4 separate regions of the Homo sapiens genome follow, and all the other regions are linked to region 1. Evidence: fine-mapped QTL for protein levels in blood plasma. A gene starts in region 1. Each other region holds a variant in brackets. All regions are shown on one strand. Distances are from middle to middle. Region 1 holds the start of CSPG4 (chondroitin sulfate proteoglycan 4). Region 2 overlaps UBE2Q2 (ubiquitin conjugating enzyme E2 Q2). Region 3 overlaps LINC02255 (long intergenic non-protein coding RNA 2255). Region 4 overlaps SNX33 (sorting nexin 33).

Evidence for each region. PIP is the chance, under the fine-mapping model, that this variant and not a neighbour inherited with it causes the effect. The UK Biobank Pharma Proteomics Project read protein levels with antibody pairs (Olink). The fine-mapping took linkage between variants from a reference panel, not from the people measured, so its PIPs are less certain.
Region 2: its variant is fine-mapped to the plasma level of the CSPG4 protein (UK Biobank, PIP above 0.99).
Region 3: its variant is fine-mapped to the plasma level of the CSPG4 protein (UK Biobank, PIP above 0.99).
Region 4: its variant is fine-mapped to the plasma level of the CSPG4 protein (UK Biobank, PIP above 0.99).

The regions. Positions count from the first base shown.
Region 1 is chr15:75,708,882-75,716,982 of GRCh38, forward strand. It overlaps CSPG4 (chondroitin sulfate proteoglycan 4), which reads right to left and starts at 3,967. Exons shown (of 10, transcript NM_001897.5): 1 at 3,787-3,967. The coding sequence starts at 3,874.
Region 2 is chr15:75,870,704-75,878,804 of GRCh38, forward strand. It overlaps UBE2Q2 (ubiquitin conjugating enzyme E2 Q2), which reads left to right. Exons shown (of 13, transcript NM_173469.4): 5 at 2,725-2,865; 6 at 5,484-5,568; 7 at 7,258-7,318. Among named protein-coding and RNA genes, the nearest start is that of FBXO22, 29 kb to the right of the region's middle. RefSeq lists an enhancer at 635-1,584. The variant T/C (reference allele first, on the strand shown) is at 3,367.
Region 3 is chr15:74,394,742-74,402,842 of GRCh38, forward strand. It overlaps LINC02255 (long intergenic non-protein coding RNA 2255), which reads left to right. Exons shown (of 4, transcript NR_146881.1): 4 at 1-15. Among named protein-coding and RNA genes, the nearest start is that of MIR6881, 13 kb to the right of the region's middle. RefSeq lists enhancers at 1,520-1,589, 1,610-1,679, 1,730-2,079, 1,761-2,960, 2,130-2,329 and 7 more. The variant A/C (reference allele first, on the strand shown) is at 3,113.
Region 4 is chr15:75,656,926-75,665,026 of GRCh38, forward strand. SNX33 (sorting nexin 33) reads left to right here. Exons shown (of 2, transcript NM_153271.2): 2 at 37-5,376. The coding sequence ends at 290. Among named protein-coding and RNA genes, the nearest start is that of SNX33, 13 kb to the left of the region's middle. RefSeq lists enhancers at 1-466, 467-966, 2,939-3,512, 4,661-5,234. The variant G/A (reference allele first, on the strand shown) is at 4,281.

The DNA of each region.
Region 1 (8,101 bases):
TGTGGTGGCACATGCTTGAAGTCCCAGCTACTCAGGAGGCTGAGGTGGGGAGATCGCTTGAGCCTGGGAGGTTGAGGCTGCAGTGACTGTTTCCTGACCTGCAGGGCTGCTGTGGGGCTGCAGGACTAACAACATGGTTAGTGCACACTATGGGGTGTCCCTGAAGGTAAGAGCACAGCAATAAGACAGCTCTGTCCTCTCCTGTTTGGAGTTACGGACCCTCCTGAGAAGCGGAGAGAGCTAGGAACCCTTGCCCCACGGAGGAGCCAAGTACAAAATTGTTCATACAAATTCAGTTCATTCAAAAATTCCTCATACAAACTCAGTAGGAATGGTAATACAGTAAATCTGAAACCTGCCCTAAGCCTGCAGCTGGAGGAAGAGCCTTAACTCTGGAAGGCTCTATTGAACTGACATATGCTGGGGCGGAGGGCATGTTGGAGGCAAGAGGAGAGCTGGATGGGGCGGGAGTCAGGGGGAAAGGCAGTGAAGGAGCAGAGGGACCAGGGAGGGACCAGGCCTCAGTCCCATGCCCACAGGCCCCTTGTTCATTTGCCCCTGGCCTTGAATAGAAGACACACCTCAGGTGGCACCCCTGTCCCCATCCTGTGCTCACTTCCTTCCCCGCAAGTGCCACTGGCCCAGATCTTTAAGGTAGGGGACTTGGAGACAGAGGCAGTAGCCACCTCGTCCAGGTCTGTGAGAGTGGCCGTGTGCAAGTGTGTGTGCCCACATCTGTGTGCGCCAGTAAGTGCGGACGTCAAGGCTATTTCCAACTCCCCCTCCCCTGCCCGCCCCTCCTGGGCAGCACGCCCAGTTCCCAGACACAGCCTATACACTTCCTCTGAGAGCTCCACACGCACCCTACTCCCCTCCTGCCGTCATCGACAGCCGCCTGGCCCACCTGGCATGGCCCACCCCAGGCCCCCCAGGCGGGCAGCACTAAAAGGCCCTTCTTGTCCTGCCCGGGCGGGCAGGCGTAGGGAGGGAGGCTCCGTTACACTTGCTCTAGAACAGTTTTTCTCGAGTCCGGGTGGGCTGGGCCAAGGGCTCTGGCCCCTGGGCCCTGCCCTGCTCCGGAGGCCTGGGGTGGCACACAAGGTGCACACAAGGCTCAGTGCCTGTCCCGAGCACCATCGGTCCCCCCAAGCCATCCTCAGAGGCAGCAGGATCTACCCTGCTTCAATTTCTTGTACCTGGTGTCCCTGTGGCCCTGCTCACTAAGATACCCCCATCAGTTCTGAGTCCCCACCCAGGTAACACACAAGCCCTCCCTGCCAGGTACTCCCCAACCTGGGTCCCACTTCAACCCCTCACATTCTGCCTTTCAGTCAGTGATGCCAGGGAAGAGGTGTGGGAGCCACCACCCCTGCCTGCCCTGTGCTCACTGTGACCCCCCGACTAGAATGTCACCTCCTTCCTTCTCTGCCTGTCCTTCCAGTATCAGCTCAAATCCAATCTCCCCCAATGCTTGGCTCTCTGCTGGGGCCTCCCATACAGCTCAGAAGGAGCTGGACACCGCATCTGTCACCCACACTGTCTCAGTGGCCCAAGCCTAGGCCCCGACGCAGGCTGGGAGCACCCTCGAAGCAGGGCTGGGGGCTCTTCCTGGGCTGCTGGGGTTCTTGGTGGAACTCAGAGTACTTTTCTTCCTCTCTGGGGCCTCAGTTTCCCTCTCTATACAAGTGGAAGATTGGCCCAGATGGCCTCTAGGGTGCTGACTGCCAGGCCCCCTGACCTGGATGCCTCAAATGTTGATGAGTAGAGGGAGAGCCTCCCAGCACGCCTCATTCGGATACGGGAGGACGAGGGCCTTTGCAGCCAGGGGCATCCAGGAGGGGTGGGAGGGACGCCTTCCTCAGGCAGGGGCTGCCCCTACTGCAGAAATCAGGGCAGGCAGCTGGACCAGGAGTGGTGACAGAGATGGGTTGCTGGACGGGAGCTCTCACAGCCCCTCCTCATTTCCGAGTCCTCCTAAAGGCAGGGGATGGTGTAACTTTATAAAACCCCACAGCACCATGCTGCTCTCTTGCCCTAAAACCCTTGTGGCATCTCCTTTGCCAACAGGGCATAAGGCCGTGGGCTTCATTTTGCCATTTAAGGCTTCTGTGCCCCAGCCCAGTGGTTCTCCCTGGCCTGTGCTCGAAATACGCCTCCCAGCCAGGCTGCTGGCCTTCCTGTCTCAACACCCCTCTGCTTACGCCCACCTTGGTGCCTCTGAGTCAGCGCCCCTGCCTGGAGGACTGACTCCCTTCCCATCCACCAAGGCTTGGTTTGAGGCCCACCCTGTGTCCTGCCCCAGCTTGCCCCTGCTTTTCTCCCCTCTGTACTTTTCATCCAGATTTTTGCTGTTTGAGATTTAATTTGCCTTTCTGCCTCCTGAATGAGTCTCAGTTCAGCCTCTCAATTTCCCGTGCCCCTGCGAGCCTAGCACCATGCCTGCATGCTGTCAGGGCTAAGAAGGTATTTGAGAATGGCTCTCAGTTGAAGCCCAAGGAGGTGGGGGTACTGGAATCCCTCCTTGGCTGGAGGCTGGGGCCTGAATGAGCTGACCACCCTGGTCACCTTGGATGCTCCCTTCCCATCTCCCTGGCGGCCCAGCCCATCCCTCAGGCCCTGAGATCTTAGGGGATCTGGTCCCTGCAGGAACAGGGAGCCTGGAGATCCAGCCCTGATTCACCCCGCGGGGGTCCTCCCTTGACTCACTTCCCTTCTGGGAACCATGTGATGCCCTCTTTTAGAGCTGGCTTCTCCATCTGAAGGAGAGAAGGGTGTGGCCTGGGCCCTTGTGAAGGAGGCTCAGGCCCTGCCTTTGCTCCATGTTGCTCTTGGGAATGATCTCGAAGGTGTAGCTGAAGCACTGAATCACACGTGGGTAGTGATGATGGATGGGCCCTAAGGCCACAGTTCTTATGGCATAACTAGAGCTGCCTTCGCTGAAGGAAGAATGCTGTCATGTTGGGGTTTCTGGCATCGGGACAGAGAGGGGATATATCCCAGCACTTCTCGGAAAGCGAACTTCCATTCAGCCTCTGCTGGGTCAGGCATCAGTGCTGGGATGAGGAGGTGTGGCAGGGGGTGGTCCAGAGCTATCTGTAGGACAAGCCCCGCTGAGGGGCACCAGCTCTCCCTCTAGGAGGCTGAGAGTGGGTAGTGGGTGGGGGGTCCTGCCTGTCACCAACAGGAGGAGGGAGAGGAGAGAATGAAGAGGGGAGGTGGCAGATAGACGGATCTGCAAGGAAGCAAGGGGAGGAAAGAAGGGGCAGAGCTGGGGGGCAGCTGGAGGGGTGTGGGGGTGCTCCTCACAGGGGAGGGCAGGGTGGCTCATTCCTCGTTTCCCACCTTGTAGCACTCCCCATTCCTGGCCCAGGGCATCTGAAGCTGGAGGACCCACTTCTCACTGTCGCCGGGTCCCTTTGGACCCCAACATACTCACCCCAAACTTGCCTGGCAAACAAAGCTCGGCCAGCATTGGGGTGGCCCCACTGGTGTCTCAGACAATCCAAACGGGCAAAGCCACGCCCTAGGCAATCCATGCCTGGGGCGCCTGCTCCCGCCCCTAACTGGACAGCCTTGGCTAGCTAGAAACCCCATAACCTGAGATAGCGGGGTCCCGTGTCCGCCCCAGGATTGAACCCCTGGCGACCCCAGCTAGTGGTGGGAGAAGCGCAGCCTGCTTGACTCCCGATCTGGGGGCCACTTCTGGCTCCTCCTGTCCCTTTTCCCTCCCGGAGGAACCCCTCTAGTTCCGCCAGGCTGGGTCGGGGTCTCAGGCCCCTCACTCACCCGCGGATGCAAGTCTGGCCAACATAGTCAGGGTCAAAGCCAAGGCCAGGCCGGGGGCTGGAAGTGGGGGCCGCGGCCCGGACTGCATCCCGGCGGGCTGGGCGGCAGGACTTGCGAGGAGCCAGCGGAGTCCTGGGAGCTGGGAGCTGAGTGGAGCGAGCGCGGCTCTGCTCCTGGGCGCGGGCCGGCTCCGGGTGTCCGCGCACTTAACTCCGGGGGCGGGGCAGGCGCAGACCCGCGCGCCCGCTCGGGTTTCAGGCTTGGACTCCCCCACCTGCCCCCACCCTCAACCTTCTTAAAGGGCCCGTGCGGGGCTGTTCCTCTCTGGGGCAGGGGTGAGGGGGCCCTTGCAGCTGGGCCAGACCCCAGCCCCACCCTAAAGACTTAGAACAAAGTCATAGAGAGGCCCAGACACCCTGAACTCTGGCCCCAAGAGCCGAGCCCGGGAGACCCCCTCAGGGAGGAGGCATGAACTGTCCCAGCCCCTACTTCCCTCCTTTCTGCCTTTGCGGGAGTTCAGGAGACCCCTCCACAGGCACACTCCAGCCTTAGGAGGAAGGACAGACACCAGCCACCCTCACAGGCGGCTTTTGGGCTGCTTTGCCTCGGAGGTCCCCTAGGAACTTCTCCAGACTCCAGAGGCACCACCCGAGGTCCTGTGGGGCACTGCCCATGGCTGCAACAGTGACCTTCTCTGCCTGGAAGGGCCTCACCTCAGTCTCCCTGTCTGTAAGGGAGAGATGTCTGGATTTCCTCGCAGGGCAGAAGAATTCTCAGTCCCGCCATGACATTTGCCTCAAAATAACCTTGCAAGGTGGGTGAGGAGCATCCCCTCCCCCATTTCATGGAGGACGAAAGTGCAGCTCAAGCTGAAAGTGGCTCTTACAAGACTCCAGGTGGAAAGTAGGTCCCTGGCCGTTTGGTGCCAGAAGCCCAGGCCTCCTGACCCCTGAATCCGGGTGTTTCAACTTCCCGAGGCTGCCTCCTGGAAATCTGGCCCTGGATTTGGCTTCTACCTAACAGCTTCAGGCTGGGGCCCTTCTGCTGGCTCCCTTCCAGGCAGCAACATCAGCCTAGTCCCAAACAGGAGGAGAAAGGGCAATGTTACTTAGCTTCCGGTGCCTAGAGGATCTGCGTGTTCTCTGTCCAGTCCCAATGTTACCGGGCCTTGGTTTACTTCCTCCATTCAGGTCCCTCCATCTATCTGCTCCAGCCCATCTCCAGCCCAACCCCACCTTGCACCCTCTTCCCAGCTCTTCCCTTTGACCAGTAACAGCCCAGCACTTCATACTTTGCAACGAAACTGAGACCTGTTTTGCAGATGAAGAAACTGAGGCTGAGAGAGATTAAGGGACTGGAGCTAGTCTACATAGCTGCTGAGATGTGGGGCCAGGTCTTTGACCCTAAGTGCAGTGCTCAGGTGTGATGGTGCCTGGTCCATGTGGGGGTTATGAGTATTGGTCTTGAAACCAGAGAGACCTGGGTTCAAATCCCAGCTCCCTTACTTGGTTGTCAAACCTTGAACAAGTCCCCTCACCTCTCTGTGGCAGTTTCCTCATTTGTAAAATTGGGTTAATGAGGATTAAATGCTTTAATGTACCTCAAGTCCCTAGCCCAGGGCCTGGCATACGGTAGGTGCTCAATAAATGCTTATCCTTTCTCCTCCGTCTCTGTCATCCTGCACATTCCCTGTGATTCATGGTTTACATACAGCTTTACACATATCACCTCCCTTGTTGTAAAGCTTGAACTTTCTCCTCCAGAGGCTGCTGCATACAGTAGGTGTACAATAAATGCCTGCTGTAGTTGACTAAGAAACCAATTGCTGCTGTTCTGTAGGGATTTTGGCAAACCTAAGAGCTTCCATCCAGGTGCCCTAGGAGGCCTGGGATGGAGGCTGTGCTAGGCTGGCCTCAGTGGCGGTAAAGGCATTGATTCCACAATTTGTCCCTTGTTTTTTTTTTTTTTTTTTTTGAGACAGAGTCTCGCTCTGTTGCCCAGGCTGGAGTGTAATGGCGCGATCTCGGCTCACTGCAACCTCTGCCTCCCGGGTTCAAGCGATTCTCCTGCCTCAGCCTCCTGAGTAGCTGGGATTGCAGGTGTGCACCACCATGCCTGGCTAATTTTTGTATTTTTAGTAGAGATGGGGTTTCACCATGTTGACCAGGCTGGTCTTGAACTCCTGACCTCGTGATCTGCCCGCCTCAGCCTCCCAAAGTGCTGGGATTACAGGTGTGAGCCACCGCGCCCGGCTGTCCCTTGTTTTTCCTTCTCCTCAAGTCGGTAGGACACCTGGTCCTCATTAGGGGCTAATTACTGACAAGCTATGGGGCTGGGGGTGGGGGTGCTGCTTGGAAGACTGTGTTTGGAGGAAAAGAGCTTTCTTTTCAGGAATGAAAAAATAAGACAGAAGGCTTTTTGCTCTATGAATCAAAAATCTGGGTGAAGATCTCTGCTGGCCCCATCTCCCCCCCCCACCCCCTCCCCATCTTCCCTGCTCCCCACCTACACAGATGTCTGTGGAGCCTCCAGACAGGGTGCTCCCACCCACAGCTGAGATTCAAGTCTGGATTAGCTGGGAGCCTCCCCCTGCCTTGTTGCTAGCTGGGCAGAGAAACACAGGCCTGGAAAATAATGGCAACCAGCACAGCGGTAATAACCCGGCTGGCGCATCTCTGCTGGGGCTTCCCAGTTTACAAAAAACATTCACTTGGTCTCTTGACAACTTTGGGAAGCGTATGTGTTGGCCAACTGTGTCCCTGCTTCCAGATGAGGAAACTGAGGCTCTCAGTGGAAAAGGGATGCTGCGGCTCCAGCGCACACAGGCCTGGCCTTTGCTCAGCCGTAACCTAGGGCTGGAACTCCGGACCAATGCTGAGCAGCATCATGCCAGGCAGACTGGCAGAAAGTCGAGGTCCCTGTGTGCCTTTGGAACTGACCCCTGACCACCTCCCACTGTCTTGGAACAAAGGCTGCTGGACCAGCTGTGCCTGCTCCTCAACTGTCCCCTCTCCAGCTCCTCAGCAAGCTCACCCAAGGCCCTGAAGCCTCAGTGCTGAACAGAGCTGACCTGGGCCTCTCTGGCATCCTCAGGTCTGGCTCGGGCCTTCTTCCTTCTGCCCTCCAACCTTTCCCATGACTTTGCTTGGCCAGGCATCCTTGGTGGCCATCCCTGACTGCCCCTACCTCCCTGGCCACATCTCACCTTCCTCCAGCAAGCCCTCCTAGCCCTCCTTCGTGCTCGTCGACTTCTCTTTCAAAAGATTCCCTGGAATCCTGATCTCCGTAGCTCTCCTAGTTTCACCTGGGGCCTGCTTAGCTGGGTCAGGAGGTGTGCGTCCATGCCTCCCCAGCCAAGCATGGGACAGAGCACAGGGTGGGAGGGAGGAGGAAAGAAGGAGGCTTAGAACACACTTATAAGAAGGAAGAAGGATGTTCCCACCCAGGGGCAAAAGAAGATTCAAACTTCTCTGAAGCTACAGTGACCTGTGGTATGTGCTGCCTCCATTTCTCCAATTGTTCTTGGAGAACAAGACAACAGAGGGCCCAGTAATACTCACCTCCCTGCCAGCAGAGTTCACCCAACCATGCTGGCCAAGCACTGCTGGTCACTCCTACCTCTAGTGCTTCTTGGACTAAGAGTCCCCGCTCTGGGCAGTGGCTGTGGTTTGGCCCCACCCTTGGCCAGGGTGTTTTGCACCCTCGTTGCCTGGGCCCCACCCAAGAAGCCTGTGGCCAAAGCCAGCTTGCTGGGAAATGGTGTGTGCCTGTGCCCTAGATGGGGTGGTGCCTAAGCAGGGGTGTGCTCCTGCTGCCCAGGGCCCGCCCTCAGGGAATTGGCCCTCTGCCATGAAGGTCACAGAACCTAGGCCACTACTGTGCAAGAGGGCACGGGCTTTAGGCGCTGGCTCAGTGGCCCTGCAGTTTTCTGGCCAAGAGCTCCATGGCAGCGGGCCCTGGGCCTGGGCCTTTGACCTGGGGCCTCTGTTAGGAGTGGTCCTGATCCTGCTTCTGGCAGAGGCACACACAGGGCTCCTCCAAGTACAGGCAGCCAGGCTCAGGATGGGAGGGAGCAGCCAGTCCCAACAATTACACAGTTCGGGAGCTGAAAAGTTATGTTTGCCACTCTCAGGAGCCAGCTGTGGAAGGGAGGCCAGTGGAGGGCTTTGCCCTGGCCTCTGAGCCACACACAAGCCGTGCTGGGAGGACAAGGGCCGGGGGTGGTGAAGGACCCTCTTGGAGCCTTTGCTTTCCAGGAGCAGGCACTCGTCTTCCATATCACACTCACAAAGGCTGGTGGCTTCAGTGGCTGTGA
Region 2 (8,101 bases), 160 kb after region 1:
TTGGACATAGTGTGTTTGAGTTCATTGGATACTTTTCTTTTGAGGAGGGTTGATGGGTGGAAGTCATGAAAAAACAAGATTGGCTAGAAAAGGCAGATGGTTAAAAGTCTTGAATTCGAGACAGGTGTGTTTCTATTTGGTGTGATTATTTGAAGGGGTGGGTTGCCCCTCCACACCTGTGGGTGTTTCTCGTTAGGTGGAACGAGAGACTTGGAAAAGAAAAAGACACAGAGACAAAGTATAGAGAAAGAAATAAGGGGACCCAGGAAACCAGCGTTCAGCATATGGAGGATCCCGCCAGCCTCTGAGTTCCCTTAGTATTTATTGATCATTTGTAGGTGTTTCTCCGAGAGGGGGATGTGTCAGGGTCACAAGACAATAGTGGGGAGAGGGTCAGCAGACAAACACGTGAACAAAGGTCTTTGCATCATAGACAAGGTAAAGAATCAAGTGCTGTGCTTTTAGATATGCATGCACATAAACATCTCAATGCTTTACAAAGCAGTATTGCTGCCCGCATGTCCCACCTCCAGCCCTAAGGCGGTTTTTCCCTATCTCAGTAGATGGAACGTACAATCGGGTTTTATACCGAGACATTCCATTGCCCAGGGACGGGCAGGAGGCAGATGCCTTCCTCTTGTCTCAACTGCAAGAGGCATGCCTTCCTCTTATACTAATCTTCCTCAGCACAGACCCTTTACGGGTGTCAGGCTGGGGGACGGTCAGGTCTTTCCCTTCCCACGAGGCCATATTTCAGACTATCACATGGGGAGATACCTTAGACAATACCTGGCTTTCCTAGGCAGAGGTCCCTGCGGCCTTCCGCAGTGTTTGTGTCCCTGGGTACTTGAGATTAGGAAGTGGTGATGACTCTTAAGGAGCATGCTGCCTTCAAGCATTTGTTTAACAAAGCACATCTTGCACAGCCCTTAATCCATTTAACCCTGAGTTTGACACAGCACATGTTTCAGAGAGCATGGGGTTGGGGGTAAGGTCAAAGATTAACAGAATCTCAAGGCAGAAGAATTTTTCTTAGTACAGAACAAAATGGAGTCTCCTATGTCTACTTCTTTCTACACAGACACAGTAACAGGCTGATCTGTCTTGCTTTTCCCCATAATTATTGATAGGAAGGCCTTAAGCAGGGAATAGTGTGCTGAGGATATTGTTTGAGAAAGATAATGTTGAATTCTGTTTGGGATGTGCTGATTAATACTCAGAAAAAGAAATTTCGTGGATGGGAACATGACTGAGGTTGAAGGTATAGGAGGAAATACAGGCTAAAGGCATTTGTGAGAATTGTGAGGAAAACATGTAGGATGGAAGATCAGGGCTGAAAGGTGCACACAGGGAGAAGGGAGCTCAATGAAGTATGGAGTCATGGGCAGAGTTTGAGTGAGAACAGAACGTTATAGGGCTTGAAGAGATGGCATTCCAAAAAGGAGGCCGGGGAGGTGAAGGCTGCAGTGAGCCGAGATCTTGTCACTGTACTCCAGCCGGGGCAACGGAGCGAGACTCCATCTCAAAAAATAAAAAAATAAACCCAAAAAGGAGGCCTATTGAATGGATAGAAGGTAGTGATTAACCTGGTCTAGAAATCAGTGAATTAGCCTGCTTGGGGAAAAAAAAAAAGCCGAGATGCGTATAAACTACTCCTTTAGAGATTTTGGCAATTGAAGTAGAGAAATAAGGTAATTGCAAAAAGTTAGGATTTAAATTCTGCATAGATTTATATATGTGTAAGAACAGATAGTACGGGAAAGAAGGGAGCAGAATGATGTGAATAAAGATATTGGTCTAGGGGTATTCAAATTCTTTGTTTTCTTTTCCTTTTTTTTTTTTTTTTTTTTTGAGATAGAGTCTTGCTCTGTCACCCAGGCTGGAGTACAGTAGCATGATCATAGCTCACTGCAGCCTCAAACTCCTGGGCCCACATGATCTTCCTATCTCAGCCTCCTGAGGACCTGAGATAAAATTCTTTTTCTAACTTTTTTTCTAGTTATAAACGTCAATAGATGCTTACTACATAAAACTTGGAAATTAGGGGAAAGCATTAAATGCCTCCAGAGATAACTAAGATTAACTGAAATTAACATTTCAATGTAAGTTCTTCTGGTCTTTCTTTTTCTGTGCTTATTTCAGCGTAACTGAAATTCTTTCTATTCTTTTTTGTATTGTTTTTCATTTTAAAGTTTTTCGTTACAGGAGAAATTAGGCTATGTTAGTATTTCAGTGGCCTCTTAATATTTTGCTATTTTGCACATGCAGATTTTGTGTTTATTTTTGTGGCTGCAAGGTTGAAATAGGTATCCTTATGCCTAAATTAGTGTTTATAGTTTAAACTAGTTTCTTAGAATACAATTCTAGAAGTTGAGTTTCTGGAACAAACTAGGAACACTTAAGGTTCTTGACACCTGCTGCTAAACTGTTTTAAAGGTTCCTCTTAATAGGAGATTTAGAAGATGGCTTATTTGGTAATAGTTATGATTTTGTAAAGCTTTTAAATCTGCTTTACCCAGAGTCTAGATTTTAAATAAAATATAGGATATAAAAGGTGGGAGCCTCTTGAATGGAATGTGGGGGCTTTTTCTCTCTCCCTATAGGATAGTTACATTTTGTTTCTTGTTCCTCATTTGAGTCAAGAATAATTTAATGTTATTTTGGCATAAGAAACTGCTGAAGAAAAATAGGTTGAATAAGCTAACATTTTTCGTCTCTTTGTAGGATATAGAAGACTTAGATCACTATGAGATGAAGGAAGAAGAGCCTATTAGTGGGAAAAAGTCAGAGGATGAAGGAATTGAAAAAGAAAATTTGGCAATATTAGAGAAAATTAGGAAGACTCAAAGGCAAGACCATTTAAATGTAAGTGTGTGTAGATATCTAGAACCTGGACTTTTGTGGTTAAATAATTGTAGTTAATACCAGGCAATTCATTAACATGCCCATCTCAGCTGCCCTCTTCCTCCATTTCTGCCTTAGTGGTGGATTCAGTCATGTGTGTTTTAAAACAGGGTCTTGCTCTGTCGCCTAGGCTAGAGTGCAGTGGCACAATCATAGTTCAGTGTAGTAGCCTTGATCTCTCAGGCTCCAGTAATCCTGCTGCCTCAGCCTCCCAAGTAGCTTGGACTATAGGCACATGCCACCATGCCAGGCTAGTTTTTTTTATTTTTAGTAGAGATGAGGACTCTCTGTTGCCCAGGCTGGTCTTGAACACCTGAGTTCAAGTCATCCTCCCATCTTGGCCTCCGAAACTACTGGGATTACAGGCATGAGCCACCGTGCCTAGCCTTAGTCATATGTTTTGTTGCTGTAGATTACGTTTCTTATCTATAGATAGCCACTTTTTACCCTGTTCATCTGCTC[T/C]TCATATCCTGGAACCACCTGCTGATCCCTGTATTTGCCCCTTCCCGGCCTGTTTATGCTGTTTTCTCTGCTTACCTTCCTCTCATGGGATCTGTATATTCAAATTCATCCTCTCCGACAAAATACAATTCAAGTTCTTTCTCCTTCGTGAAGCTGACTTTGGTCTGTCCTGCTCTGACCCAACCAAAAGTAATTTTTCTCTTTTGACTTAACATCCTTTTTTTTTTTTTTTTGGATGAAGTTACGCTCTGTCTCCCGGGCTGGAGTGTGGTGGCATGATCTCAGCTCACTGCAGCTTCCACCTCCCAGGTTCAAGCAGTTCTCCTGCCTCACCCTCCTGTGCAGCTGGGATTATAGGTGTACACCACCACACCTGGCTAATTTTTGTATTTTTAGTAGAGACAGGGTTTCACCATGTTGGCCAGGCTGGTCTTGAACTCCCGACTTCAAGTGATCCACCTGCCTTGGCCTCCCGAAGTGCTGGGATTACAGGTGTGAGCCACTGTGTCCGGCCACAACTTAATATCTCTTTTACGTGAAGCAGCAGGATGTGAAAAGAACACTGAGTCTGGTGACAAACACACAATTTATGGTTTCACTTTCCTCAGCTCTAAAATATGGCTAGACAGTACATACCTTTTGGATGATTGCTATCAAAAATAAATGAAAATGATGTGTGTATATATATAAAATGCTCAGAGTAGGGAAACATCAAATGATTGTCTGAACACTTACTACTTTTTGCCTTGTGTTAGAGCTATTGACCAACTCCGTGAAATCTGAGTAGCAGTTACTTTGTCTTGGGCACAGGTTCCCCAAAACAGGGAATGAATTGTTAGGTAAGTAGATGCCAAATGTTGAAAACAGGTAGATTACTCTCCCTCCTTCAGTCTAATTTATATATTAATCTAATTTATAATTTTTAGTAGAGCAAAGAAATTTAGTCAAGCCCCCATATCTTGATTACTTAAAAAACAAAGTTTGTCATTTGAATTAATGATGACTGTACTTTATGTCTTGTGATCGATTCCAGTTTGAGTTATAGTCAAAACAACTATAAGTTACTGAACACTTTTGCATGATGGATACTATGCCAAGTACTTTATACTTCACATATCTTCACATTTAGTCTTCATAGCCACCGTGTGAAATAGGTATGCTTCATATTTTAGAGATAGGAAAAACTTCTCATATTTTGTAGATATGAAATGAGCTAGGAAACTTGATTTTTCCCCCCTTCAAAGTATAGTGCAATGTTTAAAATCTTTAATTTCACGTGACCAAAAAATAGTTCCGTTTGTATTTAGTCTTATGATAAGATATTGATGTGTTTTCATCTTTAGAGATGTCCCTGCACTGAAAAACTGAAACCAGTCGCATGTAGGCAGATGTTTCTCAGTGTCTTAATGTGCGAACTAGACCATCTGTGTAATATTCTTGTTTGTAGTCTTATGAATGGAACTCTATTTTAGTAAATAATGTGTCACCTTGAGTGTCTTCTAGTATTTTCAAAAATTGCTGGGGTTTGGAATAGACTCATACTGAATTCTTTGTTATTGTGGAATCCATGGTGGTCTGGACATGTTGGCTAGACTTTTTCACATGAGAAGAAATAGGAAATGAACTAGACTTGTGCCTAGTTTTAATATCCTCTTGAAACTTCATAATGCTTCATTTAATTGGGCTTTTTTTTACTTCTTAAAATGTTGAGGTTGGGCACAGTGGCTCATGCCTGTAATCCCAGCACTTTGGGAGGCCGAGGCAGGCAGACCACGAGGTCAAGAGATTGAGACCATCCTGGCCAACATGGTGAAATCCCGTCTCTACCAAAAAAAAAAATACAAAATTTAGCTGGGCGTGGTGGTGCGCACCTGTAGTCTCAGCTACTTGGGAGGCTGAGGCAGGAGAATCTCTTGAGCAGGGAGGCGGAGGTTGCAGTGAACTGAGATTGCGCCACTGCACTCCAGCCTGGGTAACAGGGCTAGACTCCATCTCCAAAAAAAAAAAAAAAAAATGTTGAGTGGTGATCCATTTTTGCTGTAATCTTTTAGATCAGGTTGAAATATCTTAAATCTTAGCTCAGCAGACCCTGGTAAACAGTGGCTTTTGTGTTTCAGGGTGCAGTGTCTGGGTCAGTGCAAGCTTCAGATAGACTTATGAAAGAGCTCAGGGACATATACAGATCACAGAGTTATAAAACAGGTAAGGATCTCTGGATCCCTGCTCTCTTTATGATTCTTCTGCTCTTTTCTATTGTCAGATTATAAATGTCATTTCTTAAAACTGGACAGAAATGGAAATGTTTACTAGCTTTATTTCAGGAATGTGAAACTCAAATGCAATCAAGTTCCAAAAGATGTAGGAGTAAAATAGGATGAGTTTACTTGTCTTTTGGATTTTTAAAAAATGTTTTTATAGGTCCATTGGAATTTTGTCCTCTTCTTGATAAACAGTGAACTCTTACATGATTTTTATCTTCTGGGGAAAGCATGAGCGATATTGCTTGGAAAGTAAATAAGAGTAAAACATTTCATTTTACAGAGAATAATTGCCAAGTTGATTTTTATGATTCCCCCCCATTTTTGAAAGCAAGATAATCAGCTTTTATTGTAAAGATAGTTATGTTATTACCTTTAAAATATATAAGTTTTTAAAGTTTTCATTTCCTTGTTTGACGAGTATTCTTACTCAATATGACTTGAATGTTATGGAACCTCTCTAACTAGAGGTAAAATTCTCATATTGTTATGGAGATTCTAATAGTATTAAATAATGAGCCAAACTTTAATTTGAAAAGATAGCATTGGTTGGGTGCGGTGGCTCACACTTATAATCCCTGCACTTTGGGAGGCCAAGGTGGTCAGCTCACCTGAGGTCAAGAGTTCAAGACCAGCCTGGCCAACATGGCGAGCGAAGCCCCATCTCTACTAAAAATAAAAAATTAGCCGGGTGTGGTGGCGCACGCCTGGTGATCCGAGCTACTCAGTGGTCTGAGGCAGGAGAATCACCTGAACCCAGGAGGCAGAGGCTGTAGTGAGCCAAGATTGCACCACCGCACTCCAGCCTGGGCAGCAAGAGTGAGACTCTGTCAAAAAAAAAAAAAAAAAAAAAAAAGGGTTATGACCGATTCAATTCTAGCATTATGACCGATTCAGGAATTCTTAGCGTGAGCAAATCAAAATTAATTAGAATTTGCTTAAAGAATAAAAACAAGGAAAAAATCCTTGCTTTGTAGTGTGCAGGATAAGCCAAACTTGTTTCTGAGTTGTTAGAATTGTGGGTGTCCTTACGGTTTTTTGTGTAAGAAGTCTAAAAGTTTATCTGTAGAAACCTAATAAAGTACAAACATTTGAATACTGGTTTTATTTTTAAATGTTAAATAATCATTTGTTTCAGCATTGTTTATATAGAAAAAAAAAAACAGATACTGGGTGGAATTTGTTAAAGCATATCCATAAAATAAACTACCACAGAGTCATTAAAAAGATTGTGAATAGGTTTATGTATACTAACTTGGAAAGATGTCCCTGAAAGTTGAAGAGAGATTATAAAACAACATACGTAGAAGGATTCCATCTTTGTAGAAATGTGTGTTCATGGAAGAAAAGTCTTAAGTACATATGATTTTGCATAATCTTTTTTTCAGTCAGACTAAACGGTAAGCAGTTTTTCAACTCATTAAAGAATCTTCTCAGTTGATGGCTGTAATTATCTGTTAAGGGCATAAGATACTCAGCTGCAGTAGTGTAATATTTACTATATAGCTTAGTTGTTCCATGTTTTAAGAGCAAAATTTCTAGCTTTCGTTGGCTATTTAGTGTATACATTTATACCATAGTAATAGTTATATGATGAAATGAAGAGTAGCTAACATGCTCTATATCTTAACAGGGATTTATTCAGTGGAACTCATAAATGACAGTTTATATGACTGGCATGTTAAACTGCAGAAGTAAGTGGCTTTTTAATGCTCACCCACTCTTTGCAATGGTAGACTATCACAGTGGAGGTTATTTTCCTTCTAACTTGATACCTTTATACTATGGCTTTTACTTAGAACTTTAGACTTTGTTTCTATAGAAATAGTTCTTAGATTGTTTAAATGAGCTGTTGCTGAGGTCTAATAAGAAAGTGAGAAAGAGGAAGGACAGAAAGAGGGACCAGCTGCGGGATAAAGTGTTTTATGGAGTTAGAGCAGGGGAACTTAAAAACAAAAGTGTATTTAATAACTTCATGAGACTGTGATAACCAGTTTATATTTGAAATATATACAGCACTTTGGGAGACTGAGGTGAGAGGATCTCTTGAGCCCAGGAGTTTGAGACCAGCCTGGGCAACATAGCAAGACTTCATCTCTACAAAAAAAAAAAAATTAGCCAGGCATGGTGGAGTACACCTGTAGTCCCAGCTACTGGGGGTGGTGGGAGGCTGAGGCAGGAAGATCTTGCACTCCAGACATCAAGGCTGCAGTGAGTCACGATCGTATCACTATATTCCAGCCTGGGCAACAGAATGAGGCACCCGGTCTCTTAAAAAAAAAAAAAAAAAAAAAAAAAAAGTTGGGGGGAGGTGGGATTCAAATTAGACCTGTATATATAGGACAGTTGTAGACAAATACAGGTTTTTTTAGTGATTTAAGTTTTCATAGTTCTGACCATGGCAAACTTTTCTCCTTGAACCCTTTGGCTAATAATGTAAGTTTAATATGCTTTCCTAAACTTTTTTTGAGTTCTTG
Region 3 (8,101 bases), 1.3 Mb before region 1:
TTCAGATTTTTTTTTCGAGACAGGGTCTCGCTTTGTTGCCCAGGCTGGAGTGCAGTGGTGTGATCTCAGCTCACTGCAACCTCCGCCTCCCAGGTTCAAGCAATTCTCGTGCCTCAGCCTCCCGAGTACCTGGTGCACACCACCACGCCTGGATAATTTTTGTATTTTTAGTAGAGACAGGGTTTTGCCATGTTGGCCAGGCTGGTCTTCAACTCCTGACCTCAAGTAATCTGCCCACCTCAGCCTCCCAAAGCGCTGGGATTACAGGCGTGAGCCACCGCACCCAGTCTCACATTCTTTTTAGAGCTGTCTTGAATTCCATCATGGGGACATACCATTGGGATATATCAGTCCCAAGCTGATGGCTATTAATGTTTTTGATCTTCTGCCATCACAAGTATGCAGCTTGGTGTGTGTGCATCTGTCATATTCGTTCGGGTGTCTCTGTAAGACAGACTCCTGGAAGTGGGATTACTGGGTCAAAGGTAGCTAGTAAAGCACGACGGGCCTTGCCAGCCCAGTGTGCTCCCCACCAGACCCAGGATCTAGCCCCAAGTCTGAGTGATGCAGAATTCACGCCCTCACCTCTGTGCCATCCTGCCTCCTTCAGCAGTAGGGCTGGAGCGCATGGTGAGGGGCCAGTTCTACTTTCTGCCTCAGTCAGGATCGGTCCACTTGAGCGTGATATGTGGGGGCCGAGCCGGGAGGCGTTGGAGCTAGCCGAGGAGATGAGGCCAGCCCCCAAACACTTCCAGAACACTCTGAGCCTTCATGAAGGCTGCAGGAGGGAGCATGGCCTCTTGCCCACATTCTCCCCACCTGGGATCTTCTCTCTGGCGGCTGCCTCTGCCTCCCCATCAGCGCCAGAGCAGGACTGGCAGTGGCACCCCAGGCACCAGTGAGCAGGCTACAGGGTCCGTCCCCACCTAGGGCTGCATGGTCAGACCCCTTGAAGAGGGAATGGCAGAACCTCAAGACCTTGGGTGGAGGGCAGCCCAGGAGAGCCAGCCCCAGGCCATGCCATGGCTCCGTGGCTCATGTGGGCAGCCCCCCACTGGCCCTCACAGAGGCAGAGCTGAGTCAGCAGCCAGGGTCGGGGTGCCTCTGAGGCCCAGGCCTACTTCACTGGGAGGTGTCCCTGCACAGAAGTGAGAGGGCTCAGGAGGGGCCTGGCTCTCTGCCTCTGCTGCTTCAGGAAAAGTCCTGCTCCTTGGCTGAGCCCTCAGGGTCCTTCTCCAGCCCCCTGCCCACCGCCTGCCCTCCGGTCTCCTACACCCCCTCACACTCCAGTCAGTCATGTGGAAATGCTTGCAGTTCTCCACATGGGTTATTCCACTGCCTGCCTCCACGCCTCTGACCACGCAGCTCCTTCTTTTCCAGCTAACTCCCACTTGTCCGCAAAGACAATTCAAGAGTCCCTTGGAGCAGCCTGTTCGCACCTATGCACTCACACAGCACCTTGTTTGTTTAGACCCGCCCAGTGCCTCACAGCAACCCCATCTGGGTTCACTGTCAGAGCTCTGAGCCCACGGGGCTACTCGTCCCAAAGGCATACAGCATGTCCCAACATCTGACTTCGAAGCTGGGACAGGCCTGGCTCCGGGAGGGACAGAGGCTTCTACCTGGGGTAGCTGAGCTGTCCAAAGAAGTTTCAGCCATGTCGAGCCCCTGGCGTTGCCGAAATCCCCCACCCCACGGTGCCACAGCACCAGGGCAGCCCCTAGGAAAAGCCAGCCCCTCAGAGGCCCTGTGCTAAAGACCAGAAATTGCCCCTGGGTCTCCGCAGGAGTTCTGCAATGGGGAAGTGAGCCCTCCTGAGGCCTGGCTGGCAGGAGGCTCTTCAAGGCCAGCATCATGTGGACTTCCCCCAACCACTCGCGTTTCTGCACAGCAGCCACGGAGACCTGGGGGCTGCTGAAAAACGAGATCAGAAGGCAACGTCAGCCTGAGTGGGCTGAAACCTGAGATGAGGAAATGAGAAGACGTCAGGGGGCTGGAGGACATGGGTTTGAGGACAGCCAGCACCCAGCACTGCAGCTGAGGCCTCCTGAGGGAGCCAGAGGGAAAGCAAGTCCCCTCCCTGCGGCCTGAGTCTCTGCCAGTGCCCAGCACTCCCAAAGGATCCACCCCAACCTGAGAGACCCCAAAGACATTGGAGCAGCCCCAGACACCTCCTCCCAGGGCCACAAAGGCCCCTGACAAGCCCACAGCAGTCCAAGGCCTCCAACTGGAGTCATCTTTGGTAAATCTGGGGCCCATCAGCACCCACTGCCCTTCCTGGTGCCCTAAGCATGCTGGCAGGGGGACTGGAAACTGCATCCCAGTTTGCAGTGGGTGTATGTCTCATACACCCACAATACCTGATGTGGGCGTGACTCACCTTGGGGACCTGTGAGTCAATAAGGGTGTATGAGTAAGGGGCAGAGCATTTCAACTTAGTCCCATAGCACATGAGCTCACTAAGCAAACATTACCTATGTCTAGATTTGGGGCCAGTCACTACCCACTGGAGGCTGTGGGCTCCAAGGTATGGCAGCAGGGGAGGCCAGCCAGGCTCTGCCCAGCTTGCCCCTCCTTGTGAGGACGGACCCAGCCAGGCCTCCCGCATCCGCCCTTAGACTGGGGGACCCTGGGTGGGGGTAGAAAGGGGGACTGAAAGTGGTGTCTGGAGTTAAGCCCATCTCCTCATCCCCCACCATGGGGATCAAGATGGGGGCTAAGAGTCACCCCACCACCACCCCAACCCACTCTGAACGCAAAACAGAAGGGGACAAGCAAAACAGAACTGAAACTGGGCAAAGGAGAAACAGGTCTGGGCCCGCCCCAGGGACCTCTGTATCTCACCCCTTACCCATACACATCCTGACCAGGGCCTCTCCCCCAGCCTGGGAAAACCTTTCAAGCTTGGCCCTCTCTCACCTGGGCTCTCTCAGCCTCCTGCCCTCCCCCATCTTCCCTGCTCCCAGCCTCATGCTGCCCCAGGCCTCACCCCATCAGAGCTAAAAGGACCCCAGGCTGGGCATCTGTAGATCAGGGATCTGGTCTCCCTCTGCCACTACCTTTTGGGATGACCTTTGGGAAGTCATTCCCTTCTCTGAGCCACAGTTTCCTC[A/C]TCTGGCCTGGGCTGTGGGCATAGAATCTGCAGGTGAGGGCTCTAATGGGTGAGTTTCAGGCCAGGCTGAGACTTTTCACATTATAACACTGAGGCACCCAGCACCTTGACTACCACTCATCCTGGGGACTTGGGAAGGGACAGAGGCTGGGATTGGACAGTAACAGCCAAGACCTTCCCAGGGCACAAACGCTGCCTCCCTGAAGCCTGCCCTGACTGTCCATGCAGGTCACTCCCATCACTTCACCTCCTCCTTCCCTCCACTCAGCACCAGCCACCACTGGGTCACATCTATGTCCCTTTGGCTCTGCAAGAGCAGCCTGGACCCCTGCATCCCCTACCCCAGCACAGGCCTGACACCAAGCAGGGGCTCAACAAAATATGTGTTGAAGGCCAGGCACAGTGACTCATGTCTGAAATCTCAGCACTTTGGGAGGCCAAGGCCAACAGATCTCTTGAGTTCAGGAGTTCGAGACCAGCCTCGGTAATGTGGTGAAACCTCATCTCCACAAAAGATACACAAAATTATCTGGGTGTGGTGGCATGCACCTGCAGTCCCAGCTGCGCGGGAGGCTGATGTGGGAGGATTGCTTGAGACCAGGAGACGGAGATTGCAGTGAGCCAAAATTGCACCACTGTATTCCAGCCTGGGTGACAGAGCAAGACCCTGTCTCAATGTCTCTCTCTCTCTCTCTCTCTGTGTGTGTGTGTGTGTGTGTGTGTGTGTGTGTTGAAAGAATAAAGGCAGAGAAAATAACAAGTGTTGGTGAGACTGTGGCAAGATTAGAGCCCTCACACTCTGATGGCGGGGATGTAAAATGGTATCACCTCTGTGGAAAGCAGTTTGTCAGTTGCCCAAAACGTTGAACACAGAGTTACCATGGGATTCTGCAGTCCCACTCCCAGGTAAATAGATGTTCCAAAGAGTTGAAAACATCTGATCACACAAAAACTTGTACACAAATATTCATACAGCGTTATTCTGGATATTATTATAACAGCCGAAAAGTGGGAACAATGTCCATGTCCATCAACTGAGGCACAGATAAGCAACATGGCCTAGCCACACAATGAGCTCTCATTCAGCAGTGAGAAGATGGGGCGTCCTGGTTCAGGCTACCACATGATAACCCCTGAAAACAGTATGCTAAGTGAAAGAAGTCAGACACAAAAGGTGACATGTACAATTCCATTTATATGAAATGCCTAGAAGCTGGATGCAGTGGCTCACGCCTGTAGTCCCAACTATTTGGGAGGCCCAGGCAGGAGGATTACTTGAGCCCAGGAGTTTGAATCCAGCCTGGAAAACATAGCGCGACCTCATCTCTGAATAAATTATTTAATTTAATTTTTTAAAAAATGTCCAGAAGAGACAAATGCATAGAGACAGAAAGTACATTAGTTGGGGGACAAGGAAAGGGGAAGTAACTGCTAACAGGCACGAGGTTTCTTGGGGGTGATGGAATGTTCCAGAGTTAGCTAGAGGTAGGTGTCATAGAGCATTATGAATATACTCAAAACCACTGCAATGTGCATTTTGAAATGGCAAAATTTGTGTTATATGAACCTTTACTCAATAAATACATAAATAAATAAATAATAAATAAATAAATAAATAAATAAATAAATAAAAAGGCAACAACAGCCACCCCAGGGACAGGTTTGGAAAGCCAAACTTGTCTGACTGGCTGGGTGGCTTGTCTATTTGTGTGTTTCTTAAAACAGCATCCTACAGGAGAACTATTCTTTGCTCAGGGAAACCCCCACCCCCTCACTCCACTCCTACCTCGAGACAAGGCCTCTGAGGAGCAGATGGGAGGAGAGGGGCTCTGGGGAAACATAGGGGGCATTGCAGTGGGGTGCTGCCCTCTCCTTGGGCAGGTGCCCCCATGATGAGCAGACTCAAGGTCCAGCTACAGTCCCAGCTCTGGTACAGGTCCTGTCCCTTTCCTCAGTTTCCCCATCTGCAGTCTGCCTCCCGGGGTCTTTCTGAGGTCAGTATGTAGCATGACAGAGCCTGAGAACTGCCAAACTGCCATGTTCTCTCAGAGACCCCTTTTTGGCATGCATTCCAGATGTGGGACCAGAGGTTGGGAAGTTCTTCCTTTGGTCTGACCACAGTATTCCACTTGGAGACAGCAGTGGGAAGAGGCCTTCCACTGAGTCACCCTGACTCAACTTTCATCAGCTTCAGGCCCCCCGTGGGGGTCCTTCCCCCACCGGATGCTCACTTTGCTGTAATGGGGCAGGATGTGGGTTCCCTGCTGTGGGAGAGCAGCCCCCACAGCAGCTGCTCCCTAAGATGGTTCTGGCAGGAACCAATGAGAGGAGAAAGCTGATCCTCAACCCCTGCAGGGGCCCTGCAGCCCAAGCAGAGGGCCTCTCAGCCCACCTCGGTCCCAAGTAGGACAGATTGACAGGTGACCTCCCTGTCTCAGAGCCTCAGGGTGTCTTGGAACAAGTGATCCCATCATCTTCCTCTGAGGTCCAAGACTCGGGTGCTAATGGACTCTGTGTAGGGAACCCTGGTCACTGGGGCAGACTCTGTCCCAGACCTGATCTTTGCCATTTTGCCAGAGTGGCCCACCTGACTGCTTCTCTCTGCTGTGTGTATCACTTGTATTAACCGCGAACCCAGCAAAGAGAGCAGGAGCTTGGGCCGGGCACAGTGGCTCACACATGTAATCCCAGCATTCTGGGAGGCTGAAGCAGGTGGATGACTTGAGGTCAGGAGTTTGAGACAAGCCTGGTCAACATGGTGAAACCCCGTATCTACTAAAAATTAAAAAAAAAAAAAAATTAACCAGGCGTGGTGTAATCCCAGCTACTCAAGAGGCTGAGGCAAGAGAATCACTCGAACTCGGGAGGCAGAGGTTGCAGTGAGTCAAGATCGTGCCACCGCACTCCAGCCTAGGCAACAGAACAAGATCCTATCTCAAAAAAAAAAAAAAAAAGTAAAAGTAGAACCCCTGTTTCTTGAGGACAAAGATTAGATGCATCTTTTTGTTGTGAAATTTTGGTAAACTACTTACTCTTTCTCAGCCTCAGTTCTTTGAACTATGAAATGGAGACAATAGTAATAGTATCAACCTCAAAGGGCTGGTGAGAAAACTAACCAAGACAATTCACACAAAGTTTCAGAACAGTCCCGGGCAGGTGCGTGACTTACGCATTTGGCTTTTGTTCACCACTATTACTACTTGCTTATTGAAGCTGAGCCAGGTGGCTGAGCAATGTCCCTTTCTGGCAAGGAGGGTGGAGGCAAGTGTCACATTTCAGAAAGATCCCTGGGCTCCTGTTGAATCTGTCCCCACACCAAAACATGCCCGTGGGGGCTCTAGCTCCTGCCCCAGCAGCGAAAGGGGCTCCTCCTTCTCTGGTGCCCAGTCCTAGCTCACCTGCTCTTCACAAGCCTCCTCCCAGCACAGCCTGCACCACACAGGTGCTCAGTAAGGGGGTTGCTCTGAACAGGGAGCAGGCCCACATGCTGAGAGTGGTGGAGGCGTGCAGGCTCTGATGACCACCTGAACCCAGACTCCAGGGCAGGACAGGTCCTTACAGACCGTAAGGGCTTCCTGCCTACCCTCTTCCCATGCAGTTACCTCAACCCTGGGACACCAGGAAGGTTGAGCATTCCAGGAAAGCCCCGACCCACCCAGGAAACCCAAGTACCTGGTGGGGCCTCATCTGGCCCATTGTCCTGAAAGGACAGGAATAAAGGCTCTCTCCTCATGGCCACACACCCTAGGGACGTCCAGCCTCCAGCTTTCTGTGGGTGGGGCAAATGACTGAGGAGGCTTCCCTCCCTGCAGGCGCCTCCCTCTGGGGCCTCCTGTGGTCCAGTCGTCCCTGGTCCCCAGCTCTCAGGTGGGTCATAGGGCATCTCAGCAGGACCACCAGGAAGAGCATCAGGAGGGGAAGGAGCCAGAGAGCCCTCCAGGCCAGTGCACTGCTAACTCAACATCTCATCTTCCTATCTCGTCCCTTCTGCTCACCTCCGGAGACTCCCCCTCCCCTCTCATGCTCTTCACTGGCAGGTTATGATGGCCCAGAGATCCCCACCAGAGTCCCAGATATCAGTGGGGATCCCAGCCTATTCCTCCAAGCTCCCAGTTGCCAGTGACAGGGAGGCAGAAACAGCCTGGAAATTAACTGTGGGTTCTCCCTGAGCCTGTGGATACATGGAAAGAGAGCTTCACCACCACCCCCTTCTCTGAATATACATACAGGATCTGAGGAGGGAGGATTCTGTGTGGATGCATGTGTGCACAGATGTGCATGTTTGTACGTGTGTATGGGTGAGCAGGTCATACGTGTGGTCCCATGTGCCCACCTGTTGTATATATGCATGCTTGTTTTGTGTAAGTGAGCATAAGAGGTCAAGCCAGAGAGAGAAATAGGAACAAGGAGAGACAGAGAGAGAGAGAATAGAAACAGAGACCAACAGGGAAACAGAATGAGACTGAGACAGAGAACAACAGAAGGCCAGACAGGTAGACAAGCCACAGTTCCATCTTCCCTGGTGCTGGCTGCCAAGGCAGACAACTCTCCTCTCACTTCATTGATGTTCTGCCTGTGTTTATACCCATGATTGGGGTGGAGTTCAGGAAAGGATGTATCAGGGCTAGGACGCCCCCACCTCCACACTCACAGGGCCAGTCAGGGCCCTCTGCAGGGGCTGCCATTTCCTCAAGCTGAGGAATGGGCTTGGATCCCTCGGATGCCTTCCAGGGTGCAGGGGCGCTCCCAGTGACTGGGCTCTTGTGGTGGCTGGGGAGGGGGAGCTCCTCTGACAGGCCCCATGCTGGGGGAAACGTCCTGAGACTGACCTATCACGGGCTGACATGCACACCAAGGAGGTCTCACATCTGCTGGGAAATGAGGGGCTGGTGGAGGTGAGAAAACCTCAAGTTCTAATGCCTTCCCAACACCTTCACCTCACCTGAGAAGCTTCTAGATTCCACCCACCCCTGTTTCCTTGGGGGAGGG
Region 4 (8,101 bases), 52 kb before region 1:
GCCCTCACACGCTGTCCTCTGCTCTGCCTATGCCAGGCGCCTTCGCCAAGGTGAAGGAGAGCCAACGCATGAGTGACGAGGGCCGCATGGTGCAGGACGAGGCAGACGGCATTCGCAGGCGCTGCCGCGTGGTGGGTTTCGCCCTGCAGGCCGAGATGAACCACTTCCACCAGCGCCGTGAGCTCGACTTCAAGCACATGATGCAGAACTACTTGCGCCAGCAGATCCTCTTCTACCAGCGGGTGGGCCAGCAGCTGGAGAAGACCCTGCGCATGTATGACAACCTCTGACCGCGTGTGCCTGGGCCCCCTCCTTCCCCTGGGCCTGGTCACTGCAGTGTACCCCACTTTCCCGACCTCCCTATACCAGCAGTGACTGGGGGAGGGGTCAGCGGTGGGGGAGATAAGCGGCCTGTCCTGCCTCCTGGGAGAAGGAGCTTTCAAGGAGTCATGGGTGCCCCTGGGAAATTCCCCACTCCTTAGAAGTGGGGCACAGCAGGGGTGAGAATAGAGTCAGGAGCCCTCGAGGCCAAGGCCTGGGCTGCCGGTCAGTCAGTGAAGGTCAGGCCAGGGTCTCAGCCTCCCCTAGAGCCTATTTTGCTTGCTCACCTGGCCACTGCTGCCTTATCCATTCAGCAGACACCGAGGCCTGCTGCACCCTTGGGTCGGATGCTGGGCACCCAGGGCTGTGACATGCCTGCTCTTCAGGAGTCCTCAGTGAAGGTCGGGGTCAGACACAGACAGAGTCAATGCAGTATGACTGATGTTTAAGTGAGGGATTTCTGGAAGCTCATAGAAGGGACCACAGCATTCCACTGGTCAGGGAAGACTCCATAGAGTAGGCAACATTTGGGCAGTGTTTTGAAGAATGACAAGGGCCTGCCAGACAGTACATGGGGGAGAAGGACTTTCAGGGGAGAGGAACAGCATGGGCAAAGTTATGGAGGCATGCAAACATCTCCCTCTTCTCTCCCTTACTTTCCAAGCAAGTTAGGTACGCTTTCCATGGGGATTCTGGCCTGTGTGGTAGGAAGGGATCTCCCTTGCTCCCATGTTGCTGGCTGTCCGTACATCACCCTGTCCCCTGCAGGAGGGGGCTACAGGCCATCTCCCTCCTGTAGGCCTCTGACTCCCCTCCACTTTTGGGCCCTCAGCTTATCTCGGGCAGGGGACCATTGCAGCATCCTCCCCTCCTCGGACTCAAGGTGCTGAGGTATAAGCCCTGGGCCCCAGATCCCTGGTGACACCTTCCTGGAGAAGACTCTCAAAAGTGACTGTATATTTGAGTTCACCAGCAATAACTCCCCACACTCGAAGCAGGTCCAAACCCAGGATCTCAGGGTCCTTGGGCTCTGTGGCACTGTCTTCCCAAGATCCTTCCTGTTGCACAATGGGAAACCTAAGAGGAAAAAGACAGGGGCCTGCTTGCCCAGCCATGCGAGGGATTCCATGCCCACCTGCCCTCTGTCTGCCTCGCTGGAATGTGGGCCCCTGCTCCCCGTCAGGTTGTGCTGTCTCTGACCTATGTTTACATCCCCGAGGGGTTTCTGCCTCCTCCCCACCCAGGTCAGGGTGTGGTCCAGCAGCTTGCTGTGGGGTGCTGACATGTGTCACCACTGCCCCCCTTGCCCCCGGGGGGGTCATGGTCTCCTCCTGGATGCTGCTCCTTGAATCTTTTTTCTTGATAAACCTTTTACAATTAAGATAACACAAGCATGACTTTTTCTGTTTGGATCCCAGAAAGGCGGAGGGCAGGAGAAGGATAGAGCCCTAATTGCTCCTGAGAGCCATTGGATGAGATTCTGAGGTCGTGGTGGGCACAAATTTTCCACAGAACCTCAAAAGTTCAGGGGAGGGCTATGCTGGTGGAAGGTGCCAGCAGGCAGGAGGAGCTAGAGGCGGCTGTGGACCCCTGGGTGGATCCATCCCTCCCTAGAACGCACTCTTGTCTCTAAAACAGGTGGAGTGCTGCCCAGGGGACTGGCTGTACTGCCTTGTGATCTGGGGCTGAGGGTTGTATGAGGAAGGGACAGGACGCTGTGCCCTAGGACAATTAATAGATGGTGGCTCCTCTCCCCAAGGAGCCATGCCCTGGCCTTGCCCTTGAAAAGCCCTAGTCCAGGGGAGGGAAGTGGGGGACTCAGAAGCTGTGTCTCTTCCCCAAACCGTCCTGGGTACCCAGCCCTGCGGAGGCTCCCACATTGGAAACTGAAGAGGACGCTGGCTGTTGGGGGTGCCCTGATCAGGATGAGCGGACCTTGCTCTTGGATCTGTTCATCCACAGATGAGAGGAGGGTACTGGTTGAGACTTGGCTCTCCTTTGGAGGCAATGGGGACTTGGTGGAGGGAGGGCTTCCAGGGTCAAGGCCGTCAGGGAAGGTTGGCTAGACCAGGGACCAGGGAGCTTGTGCAGGAAGATGGAGAAGGGCCAGCAGGTGCGGTGGGGGAAGGGGCGGGCAGGACTCCCTGTTCAGGGCATAGCGTCCTCAGAGGAACTTCTGGAATGGGTCCCCCTGGCCCTTGGTCAACATTAGGTCAGATTTGGGACTTTCTGAGGAATTTTCCCCTCTCTCCACCCTGCCCCATTTTCTAACCCATCCGAGGAACTTCCCGCCCTTAACCTCTTCTCAGCTCTGCCATCCATGTAGCCATCTGCAGAAGGGGCTCTGAGCAGTGGGGGCTGGGCCAGGCCGAGGCAGGGCTGGTGGGAATGCTCCTCCTAACCCATGGTGCCTGGAAAGTCCCCTGCTCATGCTTCCTGCTCTGGGAACAGTGTTGTCCTCTGTGTGCCTTCCTTGAGAGGGGACCACCTCCCAGGCCTTCCATCCTCAGGGTGAGGCCATCAGTCTGATACTTTTCTCAGGAGGGACTTGGATCCAGGAGAAGCATCAGGAAGTGGAGTCTTGGGATAATGCCAGGCCTGCTCCTGGTATCCTGAGGTCTCTGGGCTGGGGCAGGTGTGTGTGTGGCAGGGAGGGAGGCTGTCCTGGCCCTCCTCTCTCTTTTCTTTCTGCCTCTATGGGGGTGGGGGTATTGGGGGAACTTGGGGCCGTTCTGGGGTAGCTAAGCCCCTTTCAGCAGGAGATTGGGGGACCAGTGTTGGGGGCATCCTGGTGATGGCCGATTCCTGCCTCGTCACATGCCAGGCAGATGTTCCCGACTCGGCTGGACCCAGCTGCCTCGTTTCCTCCCTTACTTTGCTCTGAGGGGGTGGAAAACAAGGCTTCTCTTTCTGCCCTGGACAGCTACCAGCACCCGGGGTAGGGGATCCCCTGGTCACCAGTCTTGGCCCAGTACAGGAAAAGGAATCCGCTTTGTGGCCACAGATGGGGGCTGGGGATGGAAGCAGACCTCAGATCCTGCATCTCTTCACCCGCTGGACACAGGAGGGCTATGAACCACTGTGCCGTGGCTGCACCACTGGCTGGAGCAGAGCCAGGCCTGGGAGAGGCAGGTGGCCCCATCGGCCCCTGCTCTGCACCACCCCTCCCAGATGACAGAGCCATATGTCTTCCACGTGTCTACACACTCACAGACTCACGAATGTAATCGCTCAGTCTCACAACAAGCACACGCAGTCACACACCTGCCCACAGGCACATACGCCACATAAGCATGCCTGTATGCTCACACAGTCATACTGCCACACGCTATTACACATTCACAGCCACAGCCACACATGCCTTGCCATCCATTCAAAGCACCAGTGGCTACTTTGTCAGACACAGCCACACCACAGTCCTATGCACATGGTCATAGCCTCACACAGTGACACATACTCGGGCACACACCGCCACAAAGCCATGCTTGCACAGAGCAAAGGTGTCATAAGCATCTCTGTGCCTGGACTGCACCTGCATGACCTCCCAGGGTCCCCACCTCATCAGAGATTAAGGAGAGCTTTGCTTGGAGACACCACCCCTGGAGGGGGTGTCTCCAAGGGGGAGTAGAGCCAGTCACAAGCACCACATACAGGCACACAGCCTGAGGTCTAGGGATGCAATTGGGATGACTGGATACCACCAAGTTCAGCTCCTTATTGAACAGATGGGCGCCTGAGGCCCAGGGAGCAGTGGTGGCTGGCCTTATCACCCAGCAGGGCAGGGGATACTCTGGGGCCAGAGCCTGGCTCTGGGCAGACTCTGTTTCCTGGCCCTGCCCTCCCCTGGGCCAATCCTCTGGGCCAGGCTGCCTCTGAAGGCCCCTGGCTGAACCGATCCAGCAGAGCTCCAGGCAGCTCCCTTCTCAAGCTAGAGCTGAGCTGCAGTGGCCACGGGAGCC[G/A]GAGCCAGGATGCGGTGGGCAGGGCCTAGGCCTGGGCGGGAGGAACATTCCTGCACCATCTCCTCCCCAAGCATGTGAGGACCCAGCCCGCCCTGCCCGCCTGCCCGCTGACTCAGGCCTCCAGGAGCCAAGCCTGCTCAGCTCCCCCACCCACCCTAACCTGCTTCCCCACTAGTTCGGCTCTGGTTCCCCTCTCCACTGGCTGGGGCAGGAGAAGACGGTGAGCCCTGGTAGGAAGACCATGGGGAAAAATCAAACCTCACCACCCCCCGACATAGCTCAGAAGGGCTGATTGTGAAACCCAGCTCTGTTCAACATAGTTGAACACAAACTTTTTTTTTCTTTTGGTTTGGTTTTGTTTTGTTGGTCAAACCCCAGTGCAGTGCAGTCTGTTTAAGAAGTAGTGTCGCATAGCTGTGGCCTGGATCTGCTCAGCAGCCCCAGTAGGCAGCATTTATTCCCTTTCGCAACAAAGAGACTGAGACTTGGCCAGAGGGAAGATGGGACCTGCCTAGGTTCACACAGGGAATCTCTGGCGGGGCTGGACTCAAACCCAGCTCCCTGCCATCACTCCTTAGAGTCACACTGATGAACTCATTTAGGGCCAAAGGAAGAAGGGGAGGCAGATTTCCCCTCTAGATGAGTGAAGGGATAGGAGGCTGGTGAACCCAACGGCTGAAATGTGAAGGGTGAGAGGGTAGGGTGAGTCCCCCCAGCCCTGAGGGATGAAGGGTCTGAAGATGGCACTGCACGGTGACAGCTGCAGTGACTCAGGAGCTCCGTTTACAAAGGAACATGAGTGAGGAACATAACTTAATTTTTTTTTATATCTGACCTGAATTTCTGTTTTCCTCCCCCATTCCCCACATGGTAGAAGTGTAATCTCACATCAATTTGGGGACCCTTTCTTTCCCCAGGGATGTGTAGAACTTTTGGGGATGGCACATTTGAAGACCTTAGGGAGCTTTGCATTTTAAAGGCTGAATCCCACACTCTATCATACATATTAATATTTACCTGCATTCCACATTAAAGGGTTCAGTTTATGACTTGTGTCCTGTCTTGTAGATACTTAATTAAACGGTATTAATTTTGATTTTGCCCCTTTCTGTTGGTGCTCTGCTCTCTTCCCTCCTCCCCGCCCTGCCCACCCAGCAGCACACATTGTTACGGGTTGCTTCTTGCAGAACTCCTGGACCTGGATGCTGCCATTGGGCCTGCGATGCCCGCCATGGTCCTGGTCAGCATTGGGCCCTCCGATCATCTTGCCCTGCCTCCTGCCTTTCCCCTGCATGCTCCCTTGATGCCCATCCTGAGTCTCTGTGTGTCTGGCTCTTCTCTGCTCTTGGGCACTCAGGGCTCCTTCCATTTGCCCTGTACTAAGGGGCTGATAGAGGTCCTTTCTGTGGCCTGTGGCCCCCTCTGGGGCCTGTGGTCATCATTCCACAGCTCCCACTTCGCAGTCAAGCACAGGGAGCTCTGGGGTGCCGCTTAGACACCCCATGCCACCCTGTTTCTTCTGGGATCTGGCTCCTTTCTTGGGGTTCTACCTGGGATGGGGGTATGAGTCCCACTGCTTCGGAATCTCCCAGCCTCTGGGGATTCTACTATCTCCCAGTGCAGGCAGCACTGTGATGGGCACTGGATGGTCGTTATTTTACAACCACCCCATGTGCAAGAGATTATTACTGTCATTTTACACACCAGGAAATGGGGTCCAGCGAGGGGGGTGCTGGAGTAGCCAAGGCTGGTGCGAAACAGTACCCAGGCCTGGGCTACCTGTGCTGAGAGGCAGATGGCCAGTGCCAGGGCCGGGTGTTACAGGCTGGCGGAAGCCTGGAGGCACCTGGAGCCTCTTCTGGGCTGACCCGCACCCCTTGCTGCCATTTGGCAGGAGTGCTCTGGGGTTGGAGCAAGGGAGTATGAGGCTCCTCCATATAGCCCTGCTGCCCCCAGATAGCAGCAGCCCCCACCCCAACCCCATTCCTTTCCCTCTACCGCCCAGAGGCAAGTGCAGATCCTGACCAGTGTGGCCTTGCTGTAGGGATGTTTCTTAACTGCTTCATGCTTCTGTTTCTCCACTGAGAGGGGAGTTCCAGATGGCTGTTAGGAGGGTGACGTGAGCAGAACACATCATCTGGGCAGTGCCTGCACAGCCAGCGCCACTGAGGAGCAGGTGGGGTCATCAGCCTGAGTAGAGCTGGAGCAGCCCTGGGGAGAGAGAGTGCTAAGAATATTGGTACCCCCACTTCATAGGTTGGAAAACTGACTGGGCAAGCCCTTTAAAGCCACACAGTGGGTAGATGGCAGAGCTGGGCCTGGAACCAGGCCCCCAACCACCCCCAGACCTTTAGCCTTGCCCCGTGTTGCCACACTGCCTCCGTGGGGAGCAGATTCCTTGGGGTCCTTGGCTGTCATTGTACTTGTCATCCAGGGCAGGAGGGGTCCGCTGGGCCACTAACAGTTACATATACCAACATATACAGGATAGCACAGCCCAAGGTTAAGAGCCCCAGTCTCATACCCAATGCCTCCCATAAACAGATTCACTGGGTGACCTCATGTAAGGTCATCATTCAGTCTCAGTTTCCTCCAGCATCACTCAAGCGATGGTTACCACGATTATACATGGCCACGAGTTCACGAGTGTGGATGCTGTCACTGCCTCAGGCCGGCTGCATCCTCAAAGCCACACAGGTCAGCCAGGTTGGGTGGGCCTGAGTGCACAAGAGCTACCATTTTTTCAGTCCTCTGTGCTGGTACCACGACTGTTTGGAAGGTAGGAACTCCTATTGTCAACATTTTCCAGCAGACGGTGGCTCAGAGGCATTGAGTCACTGCGAGATTGCGCACCTGCCCCATGGCAGGCCTGGGCTGAGGTCTGCCTGCACTTGGAGCCGTGCCCTTCCCACCGCACCAGGCTGCCTTTTGAAGGCTGGGGGGCTAGGCGTGGCGGGGGCCACTGTCCTGCTGCAGTGTGAACACAAGGGTGCTGGGAATCGAAGGGAATGGGGAGGGAGAGGGGCAGGTGGCCGTGAGGGGCAGGTGGTGGGTATTGGGTGGAGGTGGCTGTGTTCCTTCAAGTCAGTGGGTGAAAGGTCAGAGGGCTTGGCCCACAGAGAGTGCTGAGCAAATATTTGTGGAGAGATAATTTTCTGGAAGGCCCGAGGCTGGGGCATGGGGTCAGGTTCTGGCTGTGGAGGAGGGGGCTAGACAGGTGAGGCCATGGGCAGCGAGCTGGGGGCAGGAGCAGGACTCTGGTCTCTGAGAAGAACTCAGGAGCCTCCTTACTCCAGGAGACAATATGGGGGCAGTGAGAGCTGGCAGGAAAATGTCGAGACTCGGGGAAGGGGGCTTGTGAGTGCTGAGCCAAAAAGGGCTCTGGCCCTGGGGCTGGGCTGGGGTGTCAGGTGGGGCAGGCAGAGGTGGGGTGATGGAGTCTCTGCCTGCATCTGGTACCTGGAGTGTGTGGACCCACCTGTGTGGTTGCAGGTGCCTGTCAGTGTGTGCACCTGTACCTACCTGCGTGTATGTCCCTGTGGTGGCGCTGGCGCTTGGTATCTATAGTCATTCAGCCACACGAGCTTTTCCCTGTGTTTCTCAGCCTGGAAAAGACAATTCCTCTCCCCCTGAACCTCAGGCCCACCTTGGGCTCATGCCTGGCTCCTCTCTTTCTCTCATTCCACATCCCATCCACAAGCACAGCCTTGTTAGTCCATCAAATGAGACCCCAAATGTAATGCTCTCACCACCTGGGTCCAAACCACTAGGCTTACCTGGACTATTGCAGCAGCCTCCAAGCTGCCCTTCTGCTGCCTCTC